2 separate regions of the Homo sapiens genome follow, and region 2 is linked to region 1. The links come from fine-mapping of genetic effects on gene expression. A gene starts in region 1. The other region holds a variant in brackets. All regions are shown on one strand. Distances are from middle to middle. Region 1 holds the start of MXI1 (MAX interactor 1, dimerization protein). Region 2 overlaps MXI1 (MAX interactor 1, dimerization protein).

Region 1 (4,391 bases):
GGGAAAACAGGCGAGAAGAGAAAGAAAAGAACGCACCACCGACCTCACAACACAAATCCTCGTTTTGGCCTTACAGCGTCTGCACAATTGCGCTGCCAACACACGGTTCCTTTAACCCTGAAGACCTGGGGTATCAGTCAGCAATGGTGTTTTTGTGTCTGAGGGTTGTTGTGTTGGGTGGGGGGAAGGTTGCAAGATCTGACACGTTGCAATCGGGACCTTTCTTCTTTCTTTCTCTCTCTCTCACACACACACGCGCACACGTACACACACACACTCGCGCCTCATTGATCTTCCTACTTGTTCGGACACATTAAACATCCCGGTTTCCCCCTATCTGTCGGTCTGTCTGCCTAGTTCCCTTCCTCCTTTTCACAGCTATTATTCTGAGGACGGTGCTGGATACGCTGCACACGCGTGCCCCCGTTAGGGCGCTGAGTCGACTGCCTGGGGAAAGCTGGGTGACCTGGCTGGTAGGGGCAAAAATGAAACAAATAAATACAAAAAAGAAGCCAGGCCAGGGTGGGGTTCCCAGCACACCCCCACCCACGCACTACTATCCACGTGAATCTGGGGGTGGGCGGGTGGGGGGAGTAGAAATCGACCAGGAAGGCGTTTGCCTTGCTTGCCCTGTGCGCTCACTCAAGAGCCGTCTCCCGGAAAATAAAGAAAAAGCACAGAACAGCCCACACCTTCTTCCCCAACTATTGTTTCTCAAAGATCCCAAAGTTTCCTTCTAGCCGCGTCCCCACGGCCAAGTTTCCCGGGCTCAGGACGGCGTGTCCGGGGCGAGCTGCTGGCGTTGCTTGGCCCCGCCGGCCTCCTTCTTTGGGGGGGGGGGGGCGGCGGTGGCACCCCACGGCAACGGACGTGCAGGGGGACTGTGTCCGTAGACGTGATGGCCTGAGCCCAGTCCTGCTGCTAGAGGGAAGGAAAAAGGCGAAGTAGGAGGGAGAGAGAGAGACAGAGCCGAGCCCACGCCGTGGAGAGCTGTTTGGTTGTTATTGTTGTAGTGTGTGTCTGTGTGTTTTCTTTCTGGAACCTCTGAGCTCTGCCTATGGTTTCCAACTTTCGGCTTCTAATCCCCACCCCACCCAGGAACGAGCAACAGAAAAACAACACTTGTCTGCCTGAGAAGGCTCCGGAAAAAAAAAAAAAAAAAAGGAAGAAAAGCGACCTCAAAGAGATGAGCTCTCGGCTCAGTTGTCAGCAAACAACAACACTCCCCCGCTCCTCCGCTGGGCCATCCTCCCAGCCCCAGCCCGCCGGAGAGGACAGACCGACGCACCGACAGGCCCCTCTCCCCCTCGCCCGTCTTTGTTACATCTTTAGCAGCTTTGTGCGTGCGTGTCCTTTCTCCGGTGTCATCGGCTTTACTGCCAAGGGCTGGATGTGTATGTTGGGCGGGGGGGGGACGGGCCGAGCTCGCAACAGGGGTCGCCCAAGTGGGCGAGAAAGAAAGAACCGGGCGCCGAGGAAGAGCAGGGGCCCCCAAACTTACTTTTGTTTTCTTTCTCGATCTGCTCCAGGTAGCTGGCGGCCTCGAGCAGAATCTGCACGTTCTGCAGAAAAGTGTTGATGTGCTTCTCCATCGAGTTCTCGCTGGTGTTGAAAATGTCTGAGAAGGGGCACCTGGGCTTGGCCCCAGCGGGGTCCTCGGGCAGGGCCGGGGGCTGGGGCGCGGCCACGGCGGGGGGCACAGCCGGGGGCGCGGCGGGGGCCAGCCCCGCGCCCTCGCAGCGCGCCTCCTTGCGCGGCCGCCCGCGTTTGCCCATGGAGGAGCGGGGGTCCGCCGAGCTCGTCCTCTAACGGGGCTGCGCGGCCCGGCCGAGCTCCGGGCCCCCAGGGAGACCCGGCCGGCTGGAGCAGAGAAGGCGCCGGGGCGAAAAGCCGGCCTGACTTCCCGAGCCTCGCTGCCTGCAGTTGTGTGTGTGAGTGTATGGGAGTGTGTGTCGGTCTCGCTGTGAGTCTGTGTGTATGGGAGATTGAATGAACCTACAGGACAGACGGAGGCACTCTGGCGCCTGGGTCCTAGTGCGAGCCTGTCGCCATCGGACCGGTCAAAATAAAAGGTGGAGACTAGCGAGCGAGGCAGGGACCGCCCCTGCCCGTCCCCGCAGGCTTCCCTGCCTCTCCCCAAGGCTTACCACAGAGTAGAACACTGTCTTTTAACCGGAATGGAAAAAAATACCTGATGTCTCTGGGTGCACCTGCATAAAAACAAACTACTTTTTTCACAGAAAAATAATGCCTCAGAAAGTGTCCAGCACAATGCCTGGCACATAGTTAGGTCCCCATACATGGTGGCTGCTATGACTTAAAAATAAATAAATAAAAGCTCCCCAATCCAAATGGGAAGAAGGGAACCAGTGTGTAACCAGAAGATCCCCCCACCCCCAACACAAACACTCCTACTCACAGACACACATACATACGTAATCACGCACACACTTGCGAGGCACCTGTGTGTGCCTTCACACAGTCAAATGAAATCCCAGGCCGTCCAAATCCGAGTTACAGATTTACTCATGCCTTTCTCCCTTCAAATGCAAAGTTATTTTCCAGAAGTGGGAGGAGATGTCAGCATCCCTCTCCACACTCCTCTGCCCAGCCTTGGTTCAGCTGTGCAAAGCTCACACCAGGATGCCTCCACACCTGGCTCCCTTTAATTTGAGAGGCAGAAGTGGCAGCTCAGGAACCACCCCCCTCCCCAGCTGAATTCCACCTTTTGCCTCTGAAAACCCCTACCCCAGCTGACATTGTTTCACTGCCACTGCTGTCCGCAATCATGGATGCTTTCCAGCCCTGGGAAGTACTGGAGGTGTCAGGGGATGATTGAAGGCTGCTCTAGGGTGCCATAGGAAAGGGTTCAAATCCCAGCTCTGCTGCATACAGACTGTGTGAGCTTGGACAAGTCCCTTAACCTCTCTTGGCCTAAGTTTCCACATCATTGAAATGTGTGATAAGATGCTTGTGTATTGTATCTGACTTAGCACACTCTGGCCCATGGTAAGCTCTTTTTCTTCCAATCCAGACCCAGGCAAGAGCCTGAGTCCCCTATTCTGATGTAACTTGTATCTAAGAAAGGAACAAGATGTAGTGAACAAGACTCTTCTGCACTTCCTTGGAAAATATCTCTATGACAAGCCCATCTAAATATGGTTACTTTGCAAGGTCACCTGGAGTTTTCCTCCAGGGGAACCATTTATATAGAGGACAAAGACAATGCTGCCCCCTGGAGGTGTGCGATGCAGCCACCCTACTCAAAGGCAGCTTCATACACATTGTCATAAAAACTCTTGATGGCCGGACGCAGTGGCTCACGCCTGTAATCCCAGCACTTTGGGAGGCCAAAGCGGGCAGATCACCTGAGGTTGGGAGTTCGCGACCAGCCTGACCAACATAGAGAAACGCTGTCTCTACCAAAAATACAAAATTAGCCGGGCGTGGTGGCGCATGCCTGTAATCCCAGCTACTCCGGAGGCTGAGGCAGGAGAATGGCGTGAACCCGGGAGGCGGAGCTTGTAGTGAGCCGAGATAGCGCCACTGCACTCCAGCCTGGGCGACAGAGCCAGACTCCGTCTCAAAAAAAAAAAAAAAAAAAGTTTATCTTCCATTATTAGAACAATTACTGATTTTTTGCTTCTGTGAGAACCACAACCTGAGTTATTCGTGTTGAAATGCCTGTAAACATCTAAAAATGTTAGGAAGACCTCATGTATGCACAGTTTCAAACAAGCTTTCTCCAATGCCATTTTGCAAAAACTGGCCCTTGTGTGAAACAGCTCTGATCTCTCTTGCCCCAAATGAAAGATGGTACTGAGACAATGAACCAGCTAAGCCCAGAGAAAACCTTGCTTTCTCTTTAATTGCCCATTGGTGGCATGGGTCAGATGTATAGTACTGCAACATACATGCACCACCAAGACAGGCACACGCATGCATGAGTGCCATGGTGGGGGAAGGGTGTTTTGTAATTATTTATTTATCCCTGTTCCATCTCTCATAGGTCTGCGAGTTTCAGAAAGCCCAGTGGGAATCTTCAAGCTGGGCCACGGATCTGACCAAAGCCAAAATAAACAATGGCTTGAAGAAAATCTACAAAAAAGTGCTGATTTGCACTATTCCCACAGTCGGCCACAGCCCCCACCATCATTCCCATGGAAAACACCACGGCTGGTGCCAAATCAAGTTTTCCCCCCATCATAGGGGCATTGTTTTTTGTTATTATGTGAGTTCTTAGCATCAGACAATGGCACCACAAGAGACACAGTGGAAGCAGGAGAAATGCCTTTTTGTTTCACAAAGTCTGTGTTACTGTGCCCCCAGAGTCTCGCATATAGTTTAGTTGCATATATTCATTTTGGTAACACGTATGTGGAACGACGAAT
Region 2 (4,391 bases), 62 kb before region 1:
AGAAATATGAAGAACATGAAGTGCCACTCAGTCAATAACAATTATCATCAGTAAACAATAGTGCCTTATTATACCACTGAGCTAAATGCTATAACGATTTTTCAAGTTGTCAGTAGTATAATCTTTACCTGTTTGAAGACTATAATTTAGTCCTCTGCCTACCACCTTTCCAGCCTCATTTCCCATAACTCATACCCTTGCAAACCTCTTCCATAACCAAATGTGCTTTTATACTTGCCAATATCTCTACCTGGAATGCATTCTCTCCAAATGTCCACCTGGTGGGCATCTAACTCATTTTCAGGCCATGGCCAAACAATTTCTTCCACAAGATCATCCTTGCCATACTCCTTCCTCAGATGATACTTGATTTCATACTAATCACACTGTATTTCAATTGAGAGTGAATCCATACTTTTAGTCATTTCTGTTTTTCAAATAAACAGAATGACTGGCACACAGTGGGGAGGAGAGATGTAATACTTCTAGTGGATGTTTCTGGGACTCTCTAACTCACCAAAGTTGAGGTAACAATCAACACCAGGACCTCCAAACAGTATAATCAGATGCCAGGCCAGCATTTGTGAGAGATCTATTTATGAATGCCAGAACTCTTAACCTTTTTTTTTTCTGGTGCAGCTGAAATCACCAGCAAATGTTAATAAGGTGCATACCACCAAAGATGTCTACATGTAGAGTAACCAACAGTCTCCAACCTAACTCTTGATGAGAGTCAACACTTTTTTTTTTTTTTGAGACGTAGTTTCACTCTGTTGCCCAAGCTGGAGTGCAGTGGCGCGATCTCGGCTCACTGCAACCTCCGCCTCCCAGGCTCAAGCAATTATCCTGCCTCAGCCTCCTGAGTAGCTGGGATTACAGGCATGTGCCACCAAGCCTAATTTTTTTTTATTTTATTTTACTAGAGACGGGGTTTCACCATATTGCCCAGGGTGGTTTCGGACTCCTGAGCTCAGGCAATCTGCCCGCCTCGGCCTCCCAAAGTGCTAGGATTATAGGCATGAGCCACCGCAACCGGCCAACACCTTTTTTAATAGTGAAGCAAAGGGTTTAAGAACTGCAGCTTTTACAACAGAATGACTTTATCAAAGTATTTACAGTGAAAGGGGCCTAGGACTAGGAAAACAAACAGCTAAGAAAACCAAGGTATGAGAAGGGAAAGTCTAAAAAGCAATATTCCACAATGCAAAGAAGAAAAAAATTAAGTCAACAGTTCTTAATCCCATGTAATAAATGAGAAACTAGTGTATGCTTACCAGATCCATGGACTGCTTGCTAAGTTGAAGACTATAGTGCAGAACATATAAACAACTATTTTTTTTAATTATCCTGCATTCATGTCTAAGGAAGACTTCATTTTTGACAGCCTCATTTGAAAAAAAAAAAAATAATTAAATCTTGTTCCAGAGGCATTTGTTCTTCACTGGAACTCCCACAAGGAACCCAAACTCCAAAGTGATTTAACAGAAATTGCTCACTTGACATCCATTCTGTGCTAAATTTAGTTTCTATGCATACTTCCCCTCTCTTATCTGTTTATAAGGATTTAGTTAAAAAGAAAAACTTGATCATTCATTCACCATATTTCTTCTTTGGTCACACAAGAACTTTCTGTATTCCAAGTTTCAAAGTCTGGGAAATAGGGCTACATCACTGGAGAAAACAGTGGCAATTTGTTCTAAATACAAAATAGCTTATTTTCCTTTGGCAACTTTCCAGGGGTCTGGGTAGAGGGAAGGGATACTCCTCTCTAGAGAGATCAGGCTCTGAACCTGGACTACTGTCAAAACTTAGCCATCGATGGGAGAGAATATTTTTTAATTATCTTTCACATCAATTTGGAAACTGATTAAAGATTTTTGCCTTATTAACAGTTTTTCTACTCTTTGGCCTTTTGTTGGTGTTCATCTCTATTCTGGCAGCCCCCATTGGCTGATTTAATGGTACCAAGGGGCTGAGAAGTGTTGCTGTCCAAAAGAAAAAGCATTCTCTCACAGGGACTGGGAAGGCAATCTGCAATCACAACAGTAGCTACTTGTTAACTTTCTATTTGAAACACAGTGATGTCAATAGTATTGTACCCTGCCAGCCACCATGGGGTAAAGTACATTTTGAAACCAAAACAAACTTCCTACGTGCTGGCAAGTGAGATCTGAGACGCAGTGATAATGTTCTACAAGACACTGACCTAATTTTATGTACAAAATGCAAGAATTAAGTCTTCTCTTCTACAAAAGTTTAAGTCTAACTCTCACAGCTCTATTCCCACCCAGAGCCCAGTGTAA[C/T]TGCTTTATTGTATCAAATTATTGTCCAGGATGGAAGAGGGAAATGACGAAATACTGTTACTGATCTCTAATTAAAATGGTGATCTTACATAGCACAAAACAGCACATTTAAAGAATGCTTTGTAATATAGCTGTTCATCTAGAAGCAGAAAATGAAAATAGCAAAGCACCTTTAAAAGTGGCCCTACTAATAAGATGTGAGTTGTATAATAGCTCATTTTAAGGGGAATATTCATATAGGAGGAAAGACATTTTATTAAATGGAACAGGAACAATCTGGCCCAAGAATTAATTCATCCCTGGAAGGCGAATATTCATAATTTGTACTGAATATGAGCAACCTGAAATAGAGAGCTAAACGATTAAAAGTGGTAACCATGCTTACTACTGGCAGATGGCAAATGGTTTGGCATTGCTGGACATCTGCCAATCCAGTCAAGCCAGCCAGGAATTATTTTTAAAGTCCCATTTTAGAACAATTTTCCCAAAATCAAAATGCAGTTTGTTTTTTGGTGAGGAGGAGATAAAATTTGCAGTAGAAAAAGGGTAACAAAGAGGAATTGTTGGCCAGTGTGTATGTGTGTATGTGTTGTTGTTGTTGTTAATAACTGAAGCATTTACAGGCCATTTGCAACCTCTGGAAAAATAAAATTTACAGAATTTAAAATACGCCATAGTCCCTGATAATAATAGAGAATCAATGTTTTGGTATGTCTTTTTATTTCTAAATTACTTAACTGTTTTGACCTCTCTTTCATTATACTGTATCACTTTTTTTTTTTCCTGACCACAAAGGGCCCAACTGAAGAGTAGTTTTTGAGAGTAACTTTTGGAGGCAGCCTAGCATAACACAACACCTGGCACCAATCCTGGGCATGCCCTCCTCTGATAAGGCAGAAATTTTCTCAGTGTTATATATAGTAGGGCACTTACAGATTAGCACTTTTAGGTAGATAGAAAGTGAACATGCCTTAAGAACTACTTTATTTTTTAAAACCCTTCTGAAAAGGGAAAGGTGTTTGATAGATTAACAACAATTACAATTATCTCCTCTTTATCAAGTAAAAGACTGGGTTCAAGTTATATCTGGGTTGCAACATTACACTGTGTGACTTGCTTCTATTTATATTTGTCTAAATCTTAGTTTGACTCTCCTCTAGAAAAGCCCAGGAAAAGATTAAATGAGAGAGGAATCAAAGCTCTAGTATTTATTTTATATGATTCCAGCCTCAGCTCAATACCATTACAGTTTTCTAAGGACTGCTACACAAGTGCTATTATTTTCATTTCATCAATAGCTCAGGAGAACAGCCCTGAAAAATCTATACAGTTCCAGGGATTTGAGAAAAGAAGGAAGAGACAGGTGGAGGGGAACATGTTTTATTTTGTTACCATTGCCAGTCAATATTTTAGTTGTTCATCAGGCAGGTTGTGTGGCTCTCTCGCCTAAGTATATTCCAACAGCAAGAACATATTGACCACTACTCCAACTAAAGAAGCCAGTAGAGTATGGAGGTTAAATTTTCCAATCTTGGCTACATTTCCTTTCAGATACTGCAGGATGAAAGTTCTAAAACATCTTTCAGGATCACCAACAACTGTTATCTCACAGAACAAAAGGCATATGAAGGACACTTTGACATTTTGGAAAATAAGACCCAACATATATTCTGTATTGTCTTCTAAGAATATCAATATTTCTTGAACATTGCAAATCAGCCAAACCCATGCTCCCTCATTCATCTGACCCAATATATGCTAGCAGTAAATTCCAGCTGTTTTCAAGGACATTCTAAGGGCCCCATCACCAAATTGCTTCTTTAAGAAAAATTCTTTTCCATTATAAAAATAGCAGTCTTGAAAAGTCAATCAGCTCTATCTAAATTGTGTTATGTTTACAAATGTTTTAACTGCAAAGATGGGATTTCTAATCAAAAAAAGAACCTTATTTAGAGAAGAGTGATTTTTTTCACAGCTTTGTCGAATACAAGCTGTTCTGTAAAGGAATAATTGTGAATCAGGCTGGAATAAAGTGAATCAAGATGGAAAAAGCCTACAAACATTACAATTCTGAAGAAAAATGACATA

Evidence for each region.
Region 2: its variant is fine-mapped to the expression of MXI1 in T cells (TOPMed, PIP 0.96).

The regions. Positions count from the first base shown.
Region 1 is chr10:110,205,193-110,209,583 of GRCh38, reverse strand. It overlaps MXI1 (MAX interactor 1, dimerization protein), which reads right to left and starts at 1,979. Exons shown (of 6, transcript NM_130439.3): 1 at 1,502-1,979. The coding sequence starts at 1,775. RefSeq lists a silencer at 1,729-1,808 and an enhancer at 3,398-3,898.
Region 2 is chr10:110,267,455-110,271,845 of GRCh38, reverse strand. The region is part of intron 3 of MXI1 (MAX interactor 1, dimerization protein); the gene reads right to left. Among named protein-coding and RNA genes, the nearest start is that of SMNDC1, 35 kb to the left of the region's middle. The variant C/T (reference allele first, on the strand shown) is at 2,304.